4 separate regions of the Homo sapiens genome follow, and regions 1, 2 and 3 are each linked to region 4. Evidence: fine-mapped expression QTL. A gene starts in region 4. Each other region holds a variant in brackets. All regions are shown on one strand. Distances are between the middles of the regions. Region 1 overlaps PDE8A (phosphodiesterase 8A). Region 2 overlaps PDE8A (phosphodiesterase 8A). Region 3 overlaps PDE8A (phosphodiesterase 8A). Region 4 holds the start of PDE8A (phosphodiesterase 8A).

The links. PIP is the estimated chance that this variant, and not a neighbour inherited with it, causes the effect.
Region 1: its variant is the best candidate, but not a certain one, in a credible set for the expression of PDE8A in whole blood (INTERVAL, PIP 0.83).
Region 2: its variant is the best candidate, but not a certain one, in a credible set for the expression of PDE8A in memory regulatory T cells (Schmiedel 2018, PIP 0.77).
Region 3: its variant is the best candidate, but not a certain one, in a credible set for the expression of PDE8A in fibroblasts (GTEx, PIP 0.81).

The regions. Positions count from the first base shown.
Region 1 is chr15:85,124,231-85,128,230 of GRCh38, forward strand. It overlaps PDE8A (phosphodiesterase 8A), which reads left to right. Exons shown (of 22, transcript NM_002605.3): 20 at 1,977-2,144. Among named protein-coding and RNA genes, the nearest start is that of PDE8A, 140 kb to the left of the region's middle. RefSeq lists an enhancer at 800-1,350. The variant C/T (reference allele first, on the strand shown) is at 2,440.
Region 2 is chr15:85,102,635-85,106,634 of GRCh38, forward strand. The region is part of intron 11 of PDE8A (phosphodiesterase 8A); the gene reads left to right. Among named protein-coding and RNA genes, the nearest start is that of PDE8A, 120 kb to the left of the region's middle. The variant A/C (reference allele first, on the strand shown) is at 1,514.
Region 3 is chr15:85,066,050-85,070,049 of GRCh38, forward strand. It overlaps PDE8A (phosphodiesterase 8A), which reads left to right. Exons shown (of 22, transcript NM_002605.3): 3 at 965-1,155. Among named protein-coding and RNA genes, the nearest start is that of PDE8A, 86 kb to the left of the region's middle. The variant G/T (reference allele first, on the strand shown) is at 2,411.
Region 4 is chr15:84,979,770-84,983,980 of GRCh38, forward strand. PDE8A (phosphodiesterase 8A) reads left to right here and starts at 2,087. Exons shown (of 22, transcript NM_002605.3): 1 at 2,087-2,579. The coding sequence starts at 2,394. RefSeq lists enhancers at 1-86, 87-586, 1,736-2,268 and silencers at 539-588, 1,149-1,198, 1,519-2,008.

The DNA.
Region 1 (4,000 bases), 140 kb after region 4:
ATTTGCTTATCTGTAGAATGGGGATAAGAAGTCTCAAGGCATAGGACTGATGAGCATGGTACATGGTAGGCACTTAAGAACTGGTGCCTATTATACTAGATTCATTGTGTCATCAGCAACTTAAAGAATATGTTCTTTCATGAACCTCTTCCTTTGAGGCCCACATTTACTGAACATGTTGGCAGCAGCTCACAGTCTTCTCTCCCACCCTCCTCCCCAGCTCCTATCACCATCCTGAGATATTTGCCACACACAGGGATGACTTATCCTCGCAGGCTAGGATCATAATTCCTTGACTTCTAACTCCATTTTACTTCTGCAATTCATTTGTTTGGCCATGGCCTTTGTCTGCCCCCTGGTTTTCTAGCATATTACCCCATGACACTTACTTTGGTTTAACCTGATGTTGAGAACTGTTTCTTCACCCTTTCCTGTTCTCTCAATTTGTCAGCCTGCCCCTGACTTCACTCTCTTTCCAAAGACTTTTAACAGAGGTGCCTGTACCAGCCTGTTTTATTGGCTCCTGCCCTGCCATTCTGGATAGGGCTCATTGTCACCTGGCCACCACTCCTGGCTGACCTCATGCCACAGAAGGAAACCATACACCCAGCAGACTTGGTTTCCTCTGTCTAGTCTGGACAGCCCCTAGAGCTGAGTTCTCTGCTCCACTTAACATTATGGTTCTCATCTCTGTTGTCGGTACATGGGGTTACTTCTGAGAGACTGAAAATCAATATCCAGTGGGTCAGAGCAGGAGAAAGGAAGATGAAAGAGAATAGTTTCCAGGCTGGCAGTATGAAACTATAGTCACACTGCAGGTATTAACGGATCTGAAGAAAGAAGGGTCAGCACAGAGCTGGTCACAGTGGAAACCTGGAGTGAGGAGAGCTACTGAAGTGTCACCGGTGTAGTATTCATTTTGGCACTCTCCAGGAAGTGTGGGAAGCCTAGAGTCAGGATGCCACCCGTCCATCTTGATGGCAGTCTGTTCCCTCTGAGCTGGGACCATCAGGGCTTCTTAGGCTACTGCTATTGCATATTGAAATATATGACTAACTCCTTTGGAATGTTGCTTGATGGGCACAGAATCAGACTGAGGAGACCTGCTTGCCTTTAGTCTTTTTCATTGCTCTCTGCCCCAATACCCTCTAACCTGAATTCTCTTCAGAGAGCCTACAAATAGTGGTTCTATTACATCATAAATTGATCCATATCCAGTGGGGATCCTTGGATGCAGACAGCATGTGGTACTGTGAGTGGAAGGCATGCTGGGACTAAAGGCAGAACTGAAGTTCTTATCCTGGCTCGGCTGGTTGCTTTGGACAAGTCACTTCACCTCCCTGAGTCTCAGTGTCCTCATTTGTAAAATGTAATAAATAATACTTTTCATGCTTACCATTAGATCTTCTTGTGAGTGCAGATCAACAGAGAATGACTGTTAAGTCCTTTATCCATCAAATATGTTAGGTGTTATCTTGGGAATCTGCCCTATCACAGGACTGGGTTGAGAAGTACGGAGGCTGTTGGGCTGCAAGAGCCCATTTGTTGTGAGGGCAGAGAAATTTATTTTTTTCAGCTCATACTCTTTTTTAATAAATATAATAAAAGACAAAACCAGTCTTTGAGTTCTTACCAAGGGGGAGAGAGAGAGTGGAACAGAAAAAAAGGCAACTGTGAGAAAGATTTAGTGAGAGGAAGAGAAGAAAGAGGCAAGGAAAAGGGGAAGGGCAGATATACCAACCCCTAGTGCTACCCTCCACTTCTAGGTCCTGTTGCAATCTCACTGAGCCTCGGTTTTCTCCTGGGTAAAATGAGAGGCCAAGCTCAATGCTCACAGTATCCTTGGCACTGTTTTGTGAGATCCTTATAGATCCTGACTAGTGCTCTTTTTATGCTTACAGTGGGACAGACCAGTAAGAGAGGGCTTGGCACCAAGGGATCCATTTTGATTGCTTTGAATTCCACTCATGTTTCAGGAAACTGATAAAAACCAGGAAGTGATAAACACTATGCTTAGGACTCCAGAGAACCGGACCCTAATCAAACGAATGCTGATTAAATGTGCTGATGTGTCCAATCCCTGCCGACCCCTGCAGTACTGCATCGAGTGGGCTGCACGCATTTCGGAAGAATATTTTTCTCAGGTAAGTTGCTGCCTCTTTTAAGTTTCTAGAGAGAGAGAGAGTTAAAACCCATAAAATCATACGAGATAATGGACTTAACACTAGGAAATAGGGTTCTAAAAAAATTCTGTCCTTGTTTTGCAAGGTAACAAATGGTAACTGGTAACAAATTTTTTTTTTCTTAAGAATATTTTATTTTCCCTTTATTCTTGCAGGATATTTTTGTTAGATATAGCATCCTGGGTTGATGATTTTTTTCCTGAAAGTACTTTTAAGGAGTCATCTGGTCTTCATATTCTTTCTGAGTAGAAAAAAC[C/T]TCTCTTGGGGCAGAAAAAAATATTAGGAAATATACTGGCTAAGATTTTTCCAGATTTGGTGGAGGGCATATGCACATGCATATGCATACAGATTCAAGAAGCCCAGTGAACCTTAGCCCATGTCAGATGTGTCATAGTCAAGCAGCTAACAGGCTAAAGATAAATCTTGCAATCAGCCAGAGGAAAAGCGACACATTACTTATAAGAAAACAGTGATTCTCATGTCCTCTGACTTCCCATCAAAAACTATGAAGGCCAGAAGACACGGGAACATCTTTAAAGTGCTGTTAGCTTTGGGAGGATCACTTGAGCCCAGGAGTCTTAAGAGCAGCCTGGGCAACATGGTGAGACCTTGTCTCTACAAAAAAATTAAAAGTTAGCCGGGCATAGTGATGCACTCCTGTAGTCCCAAGCTACTTGGGAGGCTGAGGCAGGAGGATCGCTTGAAGCCCAGGAGGTTGAGGCTGCAGTGAGCCATGATCATGTCACTGCACTCCAACCTGAGCGACAAAGTGAGACCCTGTCTCAAAGAAAACATACAGCTAACATTATATTTAATGGCATGAGATATTGAATACATTCTTAAGATTGGAAACAAGGTAAGGGTGCCCATTCTTACCTCTTCTGTTCAACCTTGTATTGGTGTTCCTCATCATTGCAATAGACAAAGGAGAGAGAGGTTTAAAGAACAAAAAGTAAGACATACATTTGCTTCTGTTTGCAGATGACATGATTTTATGCAGAAAATTCTAAGGAATATACAAACAATTATTAGCACTAATAAGTGGATTTGATTTACCAATGTCATAGGACACAGCTCAATATACAAAAGTGAGTTGTATTTTATGTACTAGCAACCAACAATTGGAAAATGAAACCAAAAGCCCAGTCCCATTTACAGTAGGAAATAAAATTTAAAAATTAAAATTAGGAAAAAATTTAATAAGAGATGACCAGAACTTTACAGTGAAAACCATAAAACATTGCTGAAAATTTTAATGAACACTTGAATAAATGGTGAGGCATATCATGTTCACATACTGGAAGGCTCAGTGTTAACATTCACTTCTACCCAAATTGGTGTTTCAATTCAAAAATTTCAGCAGGTTTTTTTTCTGTGGAAGTCTACAGACTGTTTCTAAATTATATATGAAAATGAGAAGGACCTTGAATAAGCAAAGCAAACTTTAAAAAGTTGGAAGATATGCCCTGTTTGGCTTCAAAACTTAAAATAATCAAGAAAGTGTGGTGCTGGCATAAAGATAACAAGTACAACCATGGGACAGAATAGAAATCCAAGAAACAGATCACATTTATATGATCAGTGGCTAATGTGAAATTTTTGCAGTAAGTGGTGTTAGGATAATTGGATATTCCTATGCAAAAAAAAAAAAAAAAAAAAAGAACCACAACTCCTATCTCATACCATAGAGAAATTCATAGACCTACATACAACAGCTAAAACCATAAAGCTTTTAGAGAGAAACATACCAGAATATCCTCAATGACTTGAAAGTGGACAAAGATTTCTTAGATGCAGAAAGCAACAACCAGCCAGGT
Region 2 (4,000 bases), 120 kb after region 4:
GTTGAGAGCAGCCTGACCAACATGGAGAAACCTCGTCTCTACTAAAAATACAAAATTAGCCAGGCGTCGTGGCGCATGCCTGTCATCCCAGCTACTCAGGAGGCTGAGGCAGGAGAATCACTTGAACCCGGGAGGCTGAGGTTGTGGTGAGCCGAGATCGCGCCATTGTACTCCAGCCTGGGCTACAAGAGTGAAACTCCATCTCAAAAAAAAAAAAAAAAGAATACCACTGTAAAGTAGGTATGACTATTATTTATATTCCTTTATTACAGAGGAAGAAACTGAGGCTCAGAAAAGTTCAATGAGCCAGGTGTGGTGGCTCACACCTCTAATCCTAGCACTTTGGGAGGCCAAGGCAGGTGGATCGCTTGAGCCCAGGAGTTTGAGACCAGCCTAGGCAACATGGTGAAAACCTGTCTGTACCAAACATACAAAAAATTAGCCGGGTGTGGTGACACGCGCCAGTAGTCCCAGCTACAGGGGAGGCTGAGGCACGAGAATTGCTTGAACCTAGGAGGCAGAGGCTGCAGTGAGCTGAGATCGCGCCACTGCACTCCAGCCTGGGCGACAGCAAGACTCTGTCTAAAAAAAGAAAAAAGTTGAAAGACAGCCTAGAGTTGGGCAGCCGGGATATGGCAGAGCTGGGACTGAGAGGCAGAGTCAGTGATGCAGTCAGAGGAAATGTTCGGCAGGGGGAGCATCTCCCAAACTGCATTTGTACCAGGGCATTTGGTCGTTTTACTTGGTCACCGTTGACTTAGGAGTTTTACCCATCCCACCCAGGTGAGCCACTTGCCCATCCTACCTACCCCCTTAGCAGCATAACCACCTTTATGTCCAAAGGTCTCAACTGGCCATCTTCACTTGAGAAGGCAGGGTGGAGCTGTTATAGGCCATGGGCCAGCCAAAGTCCTTGGTTATACACAACAGAAATCAATTCTTCAGCAGAAAAGGAGTTTTTTCTGGAAGGAAATAGGGTTGCTTATAGATTGGACAACAAAGCTCTAGAACTAGTTTTGGAAAAGGAAGCAAGAACCTGGGGAAGCTGAGCAATTGTCCCCACTGCCGTAGGCATGCCATAGGAGCACTGTGCTTAGGGGGCCACTGCTGTCACTACTGAGCTTTGAGCACCACTGGCCCTGTTGAGATCTGGTTATAGGGTGTTGCTGTTCTCACCACGGGTAGCATAGCTTCTTCACACCTCGCTTCCTTACCTCACTCAAAAGCAGACTCTTGGAAGGAAGCACTCATTTGTCTGGGCCTGTGTCACCTACTCTGTCACTAACTGGGTATGGAGCAGTGGAGTCTCTGGCCTTCTCCCTCCCCTACTGAGAGGACTTAGTACTCCCAGACATGGGAAGGAAGGTTCAGGGTCTGGGCATCCAAAAGAGTAATAAAATCCCAATACATGCTCCCTTTTCCCTGGCCCATGTGTTGTTTTCACGTGACACTGTCTCACTGAGGACACCAAATTGTAGTGACAACTGTCCAGTCTATTGACTTGTTCTAGGTC[A/C]GGCCCTGAGCCTGACTGTAAGCATACAGAAATGAACATGAGTTTCGCTGTCTGGTGGCAGGAGAAAATAATTTGAATATGCTGTGGTTTGTAGTACCACACTGGAGAAAAGCTGGGGAATGCTTCCCAGCAATGATGATGATGATGGTTGACCTGGTGTCTGAAGAGAAGTAGGGGTCATGCAGAGGACAAGATGGGAGAAGCAGCACCCATAAAGGCATCGCGAAGCGAGGCTGGGGCAGGCCAGTTTGGATTCATCCTGTAGGCAGAGGAAGACCAAGGGAATCTTTATAAATAGGTAAATGGGAAAGGGTCAGGTCTTAGGAAGACAGTCATGGAGAAAAGAGATTGAAGACAAAGTAACTCCTGAATCCAGCCTCAGGAGCCCAATCAGAGACTGGATTCAGGAGTTACTTAAGTATAATCAGTAGGATTTGGGAACCAGCTTACTGTGTGGGATAAAGAGAAGACTTCAGAATGACACCAAGATATCTAGCTTGGCCACTGGATAACATTAGTTAAAATAACAAGTGCAAATAAGATCGTAAGAAAGAGCAGGTTTGTACAGGGAGTGGATAGTAAGTTTAGATTTGAACTTACCACATCTGAAGTGATAAGCCAAAACTTTTGGCCCTGGGCCAACTATTCTGAAGAGAGAAAGTGAGGCAGGAAGACTGAGTACCAAGAAAGGAGTCCAGCAATAATAGACGTGAATAATGGCCAGGGGAGCACTGAGGAGCAGGATGAATTCATTCATTCATCATTCATCCAAACTCAGTGCAGTTGTGTCTCTGCTTGCAAGATATGTTTCTATCTGGGGGTGAGGTAAACAGTAAGCAAATAAACATACAGTATATCAGATGGTGCTAAGTTCTGTGGAGAAGAATAAAGCCAGGGGATTGGGCATGCAGGGGATGAGGAGGTGGTCAGGACATGCCTTGCCAGTAATGTGACAGGCTCTGGTTCTTGTTCAGGTGGTATGGAATGGAACCCAGGCCTCATACTTTGCAGGTGTTCTCATGGGCTACCAGGGTTGGGGCCATTGTTAGAGGCCTCATAGATGATTGAAAAGAGTTGGGAGATTTGGTCTGTGCCTGGAGAAAGTGAGCTTTCTTGGGAGGAAGAGGTAGTTACCAGAGGCCCATGTGCAGAGAGTCCTGTGGGCTTGGCAGTTTGGAGGTGGCCCTGTTGCAGAGTAAGTGCTCTGCAAATGCTTGTTGATAGTGCCTGAGGAGATGTTCCGACAGTCAGCTGTGGTCCCGGCAGAATGACTTTTGGGCAAGTCACATAAAATACTGGGGTCTGGACTTCCTCATATCCAAACTGGAACTCATACTTCCAGGCTGCAGGGCTAATGCGAGTTGGAGGAAGCTGCTGTTTTTGAGGGGTACTGATTGGTTATCCTCTCTCATCACCCCCACTGTTTTTCCAGGGTTTCCTGGATTTACCCAGCAGGTCAAGGAAATGCTATTAATTTTTCTGTATTGAAAGGGTGGGCAGAGTTTATGGACCCTATTTTACAGAACAGGAAGCCAAGAGCAGAGACATGAAGTTGCAGGTGATCCTGAGCCCAAGCCCTGGCTATGGAGGCCTAGTTAGTGTTCTCTCCACTGGCAGGCCGGATACCTCAGGATGAGTATGTGTTTTCTGAGCACCCAGTAAGCATGAGGCCCTGGGCGCAGCACGCCTTCAGGAGCTGGTAGTCTCATTGGGATGTAAGCCTCACACTTCATCTTCAACCTCTTGGTGTTCCCTGAGGAGAGCTTCTGAGAGCTGGGTGCTGGGGTGACAGGGTGGAGACGTGGTCCATCTCTACCCACTGGGCGAAAATTGCTAGAATCATCTATAACGTGCTACAGGGACTAGGGGAGCAGTGAGCTTAGCAGGGCTTTTGGGAACAAGAGGATCTTGTATTTACATAAAGTAACTTTGAAACAGTCAAGTAGAAATTAAAGCCTGGTTAGTCTCCCTCCACTTTTCACAGTGCGTCCTTCATACACCCTCTGCTGCTTGCTCCTCTCCAGCCACACTGCTCCATCTGCACAAGCAGTTTCCTCCTCCTGGAAATGCTGTCGTCCTCCTCCTCATCTTGGCTGCAGCTACAAGACTCCATCCATCTCCTTTCTGCCCCCACTCCCTTGAGAATCTGCCACTTCCCCCTCCAGGCTCCTCCTGAACTTCAGAATTATTACTGTAACTCCTAGTTTACCCACCCTTTTCCCCACTGACCATCTCCTTTCGAGTTCATGGACTATACCTCATTCATTTTCACCTCCCTAATGCCTAGCTTAGGGCATCACACATGGTGGGTGAAGGTTTGTTGAGTGGAATAAAAGAGAGAAGAATGAAGGAACAAATAATCATAAGTTCTCAGTCCAGGCTCATCAGGTGGCTATGTGGACATTACTCATCATGAAGCTCAGAGGAAGGAGACACATTTCCAGCTCCATGTGGTTGAGAAGAGGGGAAATTTGAAGGAATGAACAC
Region 3 (4,000 bases), 86 kb after region 4:
TTACATAAAATCTTGAGTCAAACATTTCAATACATTATTTATAGGATTAAGTATTCTAATAATTTCACCAAGATATTAGCATTCACCATCTGAGAACTTACCCAGTTAACTTTCTTTCAGCTAAAATAAATATTAATGTGTTTTAATTCTTTTAGTTTCAAGATAAAATGCTTAACTAAATCTTTGTTGAGTTCTGCCAGTGGGTTTCTTAGCAAAAAAGTAGGCATATGGCCAGGTGCAGTGGCTCACACCTGCAATCCCAGCACTTTGGGAGGCCACAGCAGGTGGATCACTTGAGTCCAGGAGTTCTAGACTAGCCTGGGCAACATGGAGGGACCCCATCTCTACTGAAAATACAAAAATTAGCCGGGCATGTGGTGGCGCACACCTGTAATCTCCCAGCCACTGGGGGCTCTGAGGTACAAGAACACTGGAACCCTGGAGGTGGAGGTTGCAGTGAGCTGACATCACACCACTGTACACCAGCCCATGCAACAGAGGAAGACCCTGTTGCCCACCCACCATCCCCCCAAAACACACACACACACACACACACACACACACACACACACACACACACACACACACACACAGAAATGACGATTCTGACCAGGCGCGGTGGCTCACGCCTGTAATCCCAACACTTTGGGAGGCTGAGGTGGGAGGATTACTTGAAGCCAGGAGTTCGAAATCAGCCTGGCCAACATGGCAAAACCCCGTCTCTACTAAAAATACAAAAATTAGCTGGGCATGGTGGCATGTGCCTGTGGCCCAACTACTCGGCAGGGCTGAGGTGGGAGAATCACTTGAACCTGGGAGGCAGAGGTTGCAGTGAGCCAAGATCATGCCATTACACTCCAGCCTGAGCAACAGAGCAAGACTCTGTCTCAAGAAAAAAAAAGTGTAAGAAATGACAATTCTAACATCTTTTTTTAAAAAAAGTGTTTGTGCTCTTTTGATTCAGGTACTTTTAGTGTTTACCAAAGAAGATAACCAATGTAATGGATTCTGCAGGGCATGTGAAAAAGCAGGGTTTAAGTGTACAGTTACCAAGGAGGCTCAGGCTGTCCTTGCCTGTTTCCTGGACAAACATCATGACATTATCATCATAGACCACAGAAATCCTCGACAGCTGGATGCAGAGGCACTGTGCAGGTAAGCCCAAGACTCGGGCCTAAATAGTCCCATTGGCCTTTCTGACAATACATGCAGCCTAGAAATAGATTAAATTAGACTCACTCTCTTTTAAGTTGCTTTCCATGCATGTGAAATAAACAAAATATTAGAACCTCACTATTTATAGGACTGATGCATATCTCTTTTGTTTTGTCTTGCTTCACTTTACTTGAAACAGTAAGAAAATGTGAATAATAAGAATTATTAAGGGTCAAAGTGAAACCCAAAATGTAATTAACCACAAGTATCACTTGTATATTAGTGCAGTAAGAATTATAATTTTTCAGATTGTTTTCAAAGTTTTAAAAATTTTGAAAATTGTCTTTTAATGTTCGATGAATGGGCTTTATTTATTATACTTGCACCTTGTCAATATTATGAGAGAATTCTCTGTAGTGACCTAAACCTAAAAAATGCCTTTTAAAGAAAGTTATTTGTTGCTGATGGAAGCAAGGCAAATATAAAATTTTATGACATATTAATTTTAAGGACATTTAAAATCTTGACTTTTAAGAGAGAGAAAAGATATAAGCTAAGTAGATTAAAAACCCATGGGTTAAAAACCGAGGTGACAAGCAAATGACAACATATTAAAAGATTATTTATGGGGTATGTGGTGACGTCAACATGGGTTTGTTTCCTTGGTGTTGAGAACTCTACACTCCTGGTAGTCAGACTAGGTAGCGTTTACCCTTCCATGACTTGCCTCCAGTAGTTTCTCCTGTGGCCTTGATCTAGTGCCTGAAATGTGCCTGTGTTCCTCATCTGTTTCAATCTGCATGACTTCACAATAAGCCATCATCATTGTAGCCCAGATTTCTTTTTTTTTTTCTTGTGACGGAGTCTCACTCTGTAACCCAGTCTGGAGTGCAAGGCTCGATCTCAGCTCACTGCAACCTCCACCTCCAGGGTTCAAGGGATTCTCCTGCCTCAGCCTCCCAAGTAGCTGGGATTACAGGCGCACACCACCATGCCTGGCTAATTTTGTATTTTTAATAGAGACGGTGTTTGACCATATTGGCCAGGCTGGTCTTGAACTCCTGACCCCAAGTGATCCATCTGCCTCAGCCTCCCAAAGTGCTGGGATTACAGGTGTGAGCCACCGCACTGTGCCCGCCCTACCCCAGATTTCTTGACATGTCATTTGGCCAGTCACCCAGCACATTCATGGGGGATTGCAGCCCAAAAGAAATGGAGAGAGCTCCGGCCAGGAAAAAGGGAGGTCCAGGTCCTT[G/T]TTTGGCTCTTCCTGGATAGCTGCTTGTCTCTGGGTAACTCTGCCTTCTCTGGGGATGTTTTAGCTCAGCTGTAAATTTGGAACACTTGGTTTCCAGTATCCCTTTTATCCCTAACATTGAATAGATACCACTCAGAGGAAGGGAAGATGATATCTAAATTACATGGTGCTTGGTAGTCATGGTGGAATGTTGCAAGGCAGTAGAGGTGTCTAAGGTGGGCCAAATGGCTGCCGAGATAGAAGAGGGAGGACAGGGTGAGGGGCTGGAGAAAATTTGGCCTCTTTCCTAGTCTTGTCCAGGCCCAAGCCTAGCCACAGGTATGTGCTAGGCAATGAAAGTTCATACTTTTAAAGGTGACTACTAGAGCATCTTGTATTGTAAAAGAAAATTTAAATTGTGTTGGTTACGCTCCACTGTTAAAAATTGTGGTAAAAGAAACATAACATTAACTTTATGTTCCACTTTTTAAGGGAAGAAAATGTACTATTGCTGTACATTTTAGGAATATTCTAAACAAATAGGGTTAATTCATTCAGCAGATTTTTATTGAGCTATGTACAAGAGAATGTTTTAGACTGAAAGTTATAAAATGAAGTTCTTGTCTTCTATGAGCTTATAGACTAGAGGAGCTGAAATATTTCAATGAAAAAAAGTAATGTTACGTGCTCAGTTAAAAACTCACACAAATACCAAATTCCATAAGCACTATAGTTAATCAGAGTTCTTTCGTCATGTAAATAACAATTTTATATAGTTTTAAAGTAAAGAATGGGAACTGGATTGCTTTAATATATGGTTTTAGAGAAGCAGAGAATGTCAGATGTGCCTCTCCTCTATGAAGTGCCTAGCACTCTCCATCCAGCCTCTCCTCAGGACCTGGGGCTCACTAAGTGAAACCCTGAGATTTAGAAGCTTTGCTTTATATTGAACCCAACTTTGTCCACAGTTGGCGCACAGGATTGCTAGAACAGAGCTATTATTCCTCTTCCCCAGAATGGACTTCCAACACTGGAGGACAGGAATTGTGTCCCCCCACCCCAGACATCTTTCCTTTTCTGAACTGAGCACACCCTTACTGCTATGAGTGGCTCCTAACAGATCCTGGTTTCATATTCCCACCACATCAAGGGTGCTTCCCCTGAGTACCCTTTTCTGATTGATAGACCTTGTAAGCATGGCTCCAGAACCGAAAAGCTCACACTAGGTTTAGGGGAACCAGTGACAAGTAAGCAGAACAGTCCCCTCCACTGTGCTAGCCAGAGAGAGCAGGCCTTTACAAATGTAATCCCCGATCACATTTATTTCCTGATGGCCACATCACAGCCTTGGTCAAGAATCTCAAGTGTTTCTCACAAGCTGTTTTCTACCACGTCATCTCCATCTTGTTGGGTGAGGATTTGGGGTAGGGATGGGTCCTTGTGCTAATCGTAGTGAGTTTTCTAGAGGCAAGAGCAGACCCTGATTTATTTTCCTAATCAGTTTTGTCTTCATTCTGGCCCTTACCTGGCTTATCTCCCTTAAGATCATCCCTTTAAGGATGCCCGCCCACTTTGGACTGTTCAAGAAATCTTTCCAGGCTCCCCACCCCC
Region 4 (4,211 bases):
GGTGTGGGGCGGTGCACACGGGGCTTTTCAGGCCAGCTGATCCCCCAGCCCTAGTCCCCAACTCCTTCATTTAGTGCATGGCCCAAGGACCAACAAGGGAGGCGGGACGCCGAGGTCCTGCCTAGGAGGGGAGGGCCGAGAGGACTAGAGCTGCTTGGAGCCCCAGAAGCGGCAAGGTCAGCGCCGGGAGTCGTCAAGGCCGTACTTCTCTGCAGGGCGGGGAGGAGAGGTCGCGCTTTAAACTTCCATGAACTCTGTTGGTTCCAAGCATTTTCTCCATGAAGTATCCTTTATTTACAAGAGCTCCAGATTCTACCTGGAAAAAAGACCTCTTAAAATTGCAGAGCAAAGGCAGAAAAAAATTATACGATTTAGGCGGAATAAAGAGTGATGTTTAAAAATCTTTTCCTTTGTTTTTTAAGACATCTTCACCAAGCCAGTAGTACTTTTATAAGGCAGAGAAGCATAAATATTAATATTGCTTAATGGGCTTAAACTTGGTAATAGAGCCACGTGCCAGTGGTTCGGGGCAGTTTCGCCAGTAACGTGCTCTCGGGTTACCCTGCTCGGGCCAGAGATCGAGGCTCCGGGGACCCGGCACCTGAACCTGTGCTGCAGTCCCAGCGCGACAGCAGGGAATCCAGCCCGCAGCACGCCTCCGGGTCTTTGCAGTAGCCGGGCCAAGGCGGGAGCGGCTGCCTCTCAGGGTCGCTCCAGGGCCGCGCTAGGAAAGGTGTGGACGGTCGGAGAGGACAGGAAGGAGCCGGCTGCACCGCGCCAGGGTCTCCGCAAACCGGGAGCCCAGGGAGGGCGGGAAGACTGGCGGGGGTCCGAGGCAGCCCGCTACAGGATACGTGATGGACGCCCAGAGACACCGCCCTCCAGCTGGTGGGGGAGGAGCCCCAGCCACCAAGAAGTTAAGTGACTGGCCCAGTTCACACAGCAAGCTAGTGGCTGTGTGCGTGTCCGGGGTCCTCATGGGCCCCAGGCCTGCAATGCGTACGCCCCTTCCCCTGGCTCTGCCTTTGGGGTCTCGGACGCCCGACTAGCACTTTGGTTAAAATGAGAGGAGGACGGGCGCCTGCAGCCTGCCCGGTGCTGTAGCTTTGCGGCCGCCCCGGCGCCTGTGTAATCCGAGGCGTGGCGCGCCAGGTTTTGGCCTGCGAGGGAGCGCACGTGGGCTGCGGCTTCTCGCGGACGCCCAGGCCCCACCCACCCGGGACCCGGCGCGCGGCGCCCCAGTTTGACTTTCACTACCCCCAAAGGAGGTCTTTCCACCGGCCTCTTTTCTGGGTAACAGCTCCAGGGCTCACACTTGGTGACCCCACCGAGGTCAAGTAGCCGCTAAGTTACGGAGCCGGAATTCGAATTTGGCGGTCGGGCTTCTGGTGGCCTCGGGACGGAGGTGGCTGTGTGTCCCTGGGCAAGTCTCTTTCCTTCTCTGGGTAGCCCAGTCGGGCGCCCCGCCTGTCGTCGCCGCGCATGCTCAGTTGCGGGCGGCGTCCGGAGGAGGTGGCGGGCGCCCCAGCTGCTTTGCATTGACGCCAGCACCCGCTGGAGGTCACCGCTGGGGGCTCGGCGCGGCACGCTGCCGGCAAAACCCGGCCCGGATCACGGAGCCGGAGCCGGAGCCGTACCGCCAGCAACTCCTGGGTGCGCGCAGCCGTTTCTGCGCTTCTCGACGGTGCGGCCCCAGGCCCCGCTGGAGCCGAGCTGCTCCCCTCCCTACCCTGGCGGACGTGGCCCGGCCGCTCCGAGGGGTTTCCCTCGGACCCCGCGCCTAAACCCCGGCCAGCGGGAGCGTCTAAGGCTAGCCTTGTACCCCACCGGCACTCGGCCTGGGGGGGCTTTTCCGCGAGGCGGCGGCCCAGCGGGCGGAGCGGCGTGGGTGTCCACATCTAGGCGGAGTCTGGAGCCGGGGAGGCGGCGGCGGCGGCGGCGGGAGCGGGGCCGGGCGCGGCCGGGAGCTCGCCTCCCCCGGGGGTCGTGCCGCAGCTCGGCGAGGGCAGCGTGGCTCGCGCGGCGTGGACTCAGCCGCTCCTGGGTAAGGAGAGCGCAAATCTCCTCCCCCTATTTCCCCGGAAGCGCGGCCGAGGCGAGCCCGGCGATGTGAGAGGCGGCCGTCGGCTCCTGCCTCAGGAAGGGCATGTTCGGAGGGGCGGCCTCGGCACGCCACCCGCCTAAGCGCCCCCTTCCCACCGCAGCCGCCGCCGCCGCAGCGCCCGCACCGCGATAAAAGGGGCGGCCGCGTTTCCTGACGCGAGATCCGCGCTCGCCGCCGCCCGCCCAGGCGGCGATGACACGGCGCCCGCGGCGGCCCGGAGGCGCCGGGTGGGCCGTTTGCTGACCGGATCGCGGCTACCCGCCAGCGTGTCCGCGGCGCCGCCGCCAGCATGGGCTGTGCCCCGAGCATCCACATTTCCGAGCGCCTGGTGGCCGAGGACGCGCCTAGCCCCGCGGCACCGCCGCTGTCGTCCGGCGGGCCGCGCCTCCCGCAGGGCCAGAAGACGGCCGCCTTGCCCCGGACCCGCGGCGCCGGCCTCTTGGAGTCGGAGCTTCGCGACGGCAGCGGCAAGAAGGTAAGGGGCGCCGGGCACTCTGGGGCCGCCGCGAAACTCGGGCCCGGCCAGTAAGCAACTTTCCCGCAGGGGCCGGGCGGGGTCCCCCCCACCCGGCCTCGGTGCCCTCTTGTCCCGCTTTGGATGGTTCTGATTGACGCCAGTCTCCCGCCTTGCCGGGGCAGCGTTCAGAGAAGGACCGACCCAGGTCCCGCGACCCTGATTTCCTAGGGTTGCGATTAGGACGCCGCCTGTGTCGCGGCGTCGGTTTTTTGGACACATCCGACTCCCGGAGCGGCGGGGCCCGATGTGAAGTTGACTGAGGCGCTTGCATCAATTTCCTCTCCAAGAGCGGGTGTTTGAGGGAAACCCCCAGGATATTCTGGCGCGCCCCTGCAATGTTAAATCAGTGTGAACTTTGTTCTTTTCCTGTGGTAGAAAGGGAAGGGCGACTGGCCTCACCACTCTTTTCCCTCTGTCAGCTTTGCACATGCAGTTGCAGGTTACCATTTTCTTCGGGACTGCTAGAATGTAATCTGGAACATCAGCTTTGCTTCATTGCACATGTATTTGAGGTCCACGTTTATTAGCATACATACTGTATTTAAAGCATATGTAATTAGAAAATACTGTGAAACGCGATTTTTGAAGCATTCAGCAGAACAAAGTTAATCTTTTATTAAGCCGACTTACTGGGACATTTTGTGACTGGGGTTTTTTGTTTTTTTACATTGCGTGTCTTCTCCAGCGCATGTTGCCTTGGCTTATGTTTTGTCAAAGTTTCTGGGCTTAGTCTTTGTTGAGGTTTTCTAAAGGAAAGTTAAAAAGGAAAAAGAAAAACGTGATCATTAAGGCACACAGCAGCAGCTTTCCAGTTCTCTCATTTCAGAATTTAAAGCTGGAACTCATGCGTTGGTTTATGTTTTGTTAAACCAGTAAAAGACAACAACAACAAAATTCGTGCATGGCTGCAGATTGTTGGCTGTCATCCCTCTCATCACGACCAGTTTTTGAAAGAGTAATTTGCAAAATTTGTTTGATTTTTCCTTGCTTGCTGAGAACTGCTGAACCTCCGAAGTTTGAGGGATATAGTTTGATGTACTTTCTGTCTTACATTTCTAGCAGTCGTCATGATACTTTTTCTGTACGAAAGGGGAAAGTCTTTTTCAGTGTTGCATAACAGTTGATTTCCCCACCATTCCCATACCCTAAGTGAAAATTCAACTTTGTTCTGATTATCAGAAATTGAATTCCTTCTCCTATAGATTCTTTAAAGAAACCTCTGATGGTTTAGGCTTACTAACTCAAGGTGCTCTTAATATCAGTGTTAAGCTGTGTGTTAAGCCTACTTGGCTTTAAAAAAGTGTTACACAGGTGCATATGGAAACTTTAACAGCTTTCAAGTTTTCAGTCCAAATCTAACATTTTGCAGACTAATGTGATAATTTCAGATTACCAAAGTAGCCCTTTTATAGTGAGGGGCCTTTGTGTCTTACAGGCTTTTTTTGTGGTGGATTGGGTGTCCTAAAATTCACCTAGGTGTCTTGTAAGCCTCCCCAGTGCAGCAGCAGCTTGCTCTTGTGCTATCGCAGTGCCGTTAGGTCCCTGAGTTTTTAAGTACTTACTTCAACCATTCTTCTGTATTGGCAGACC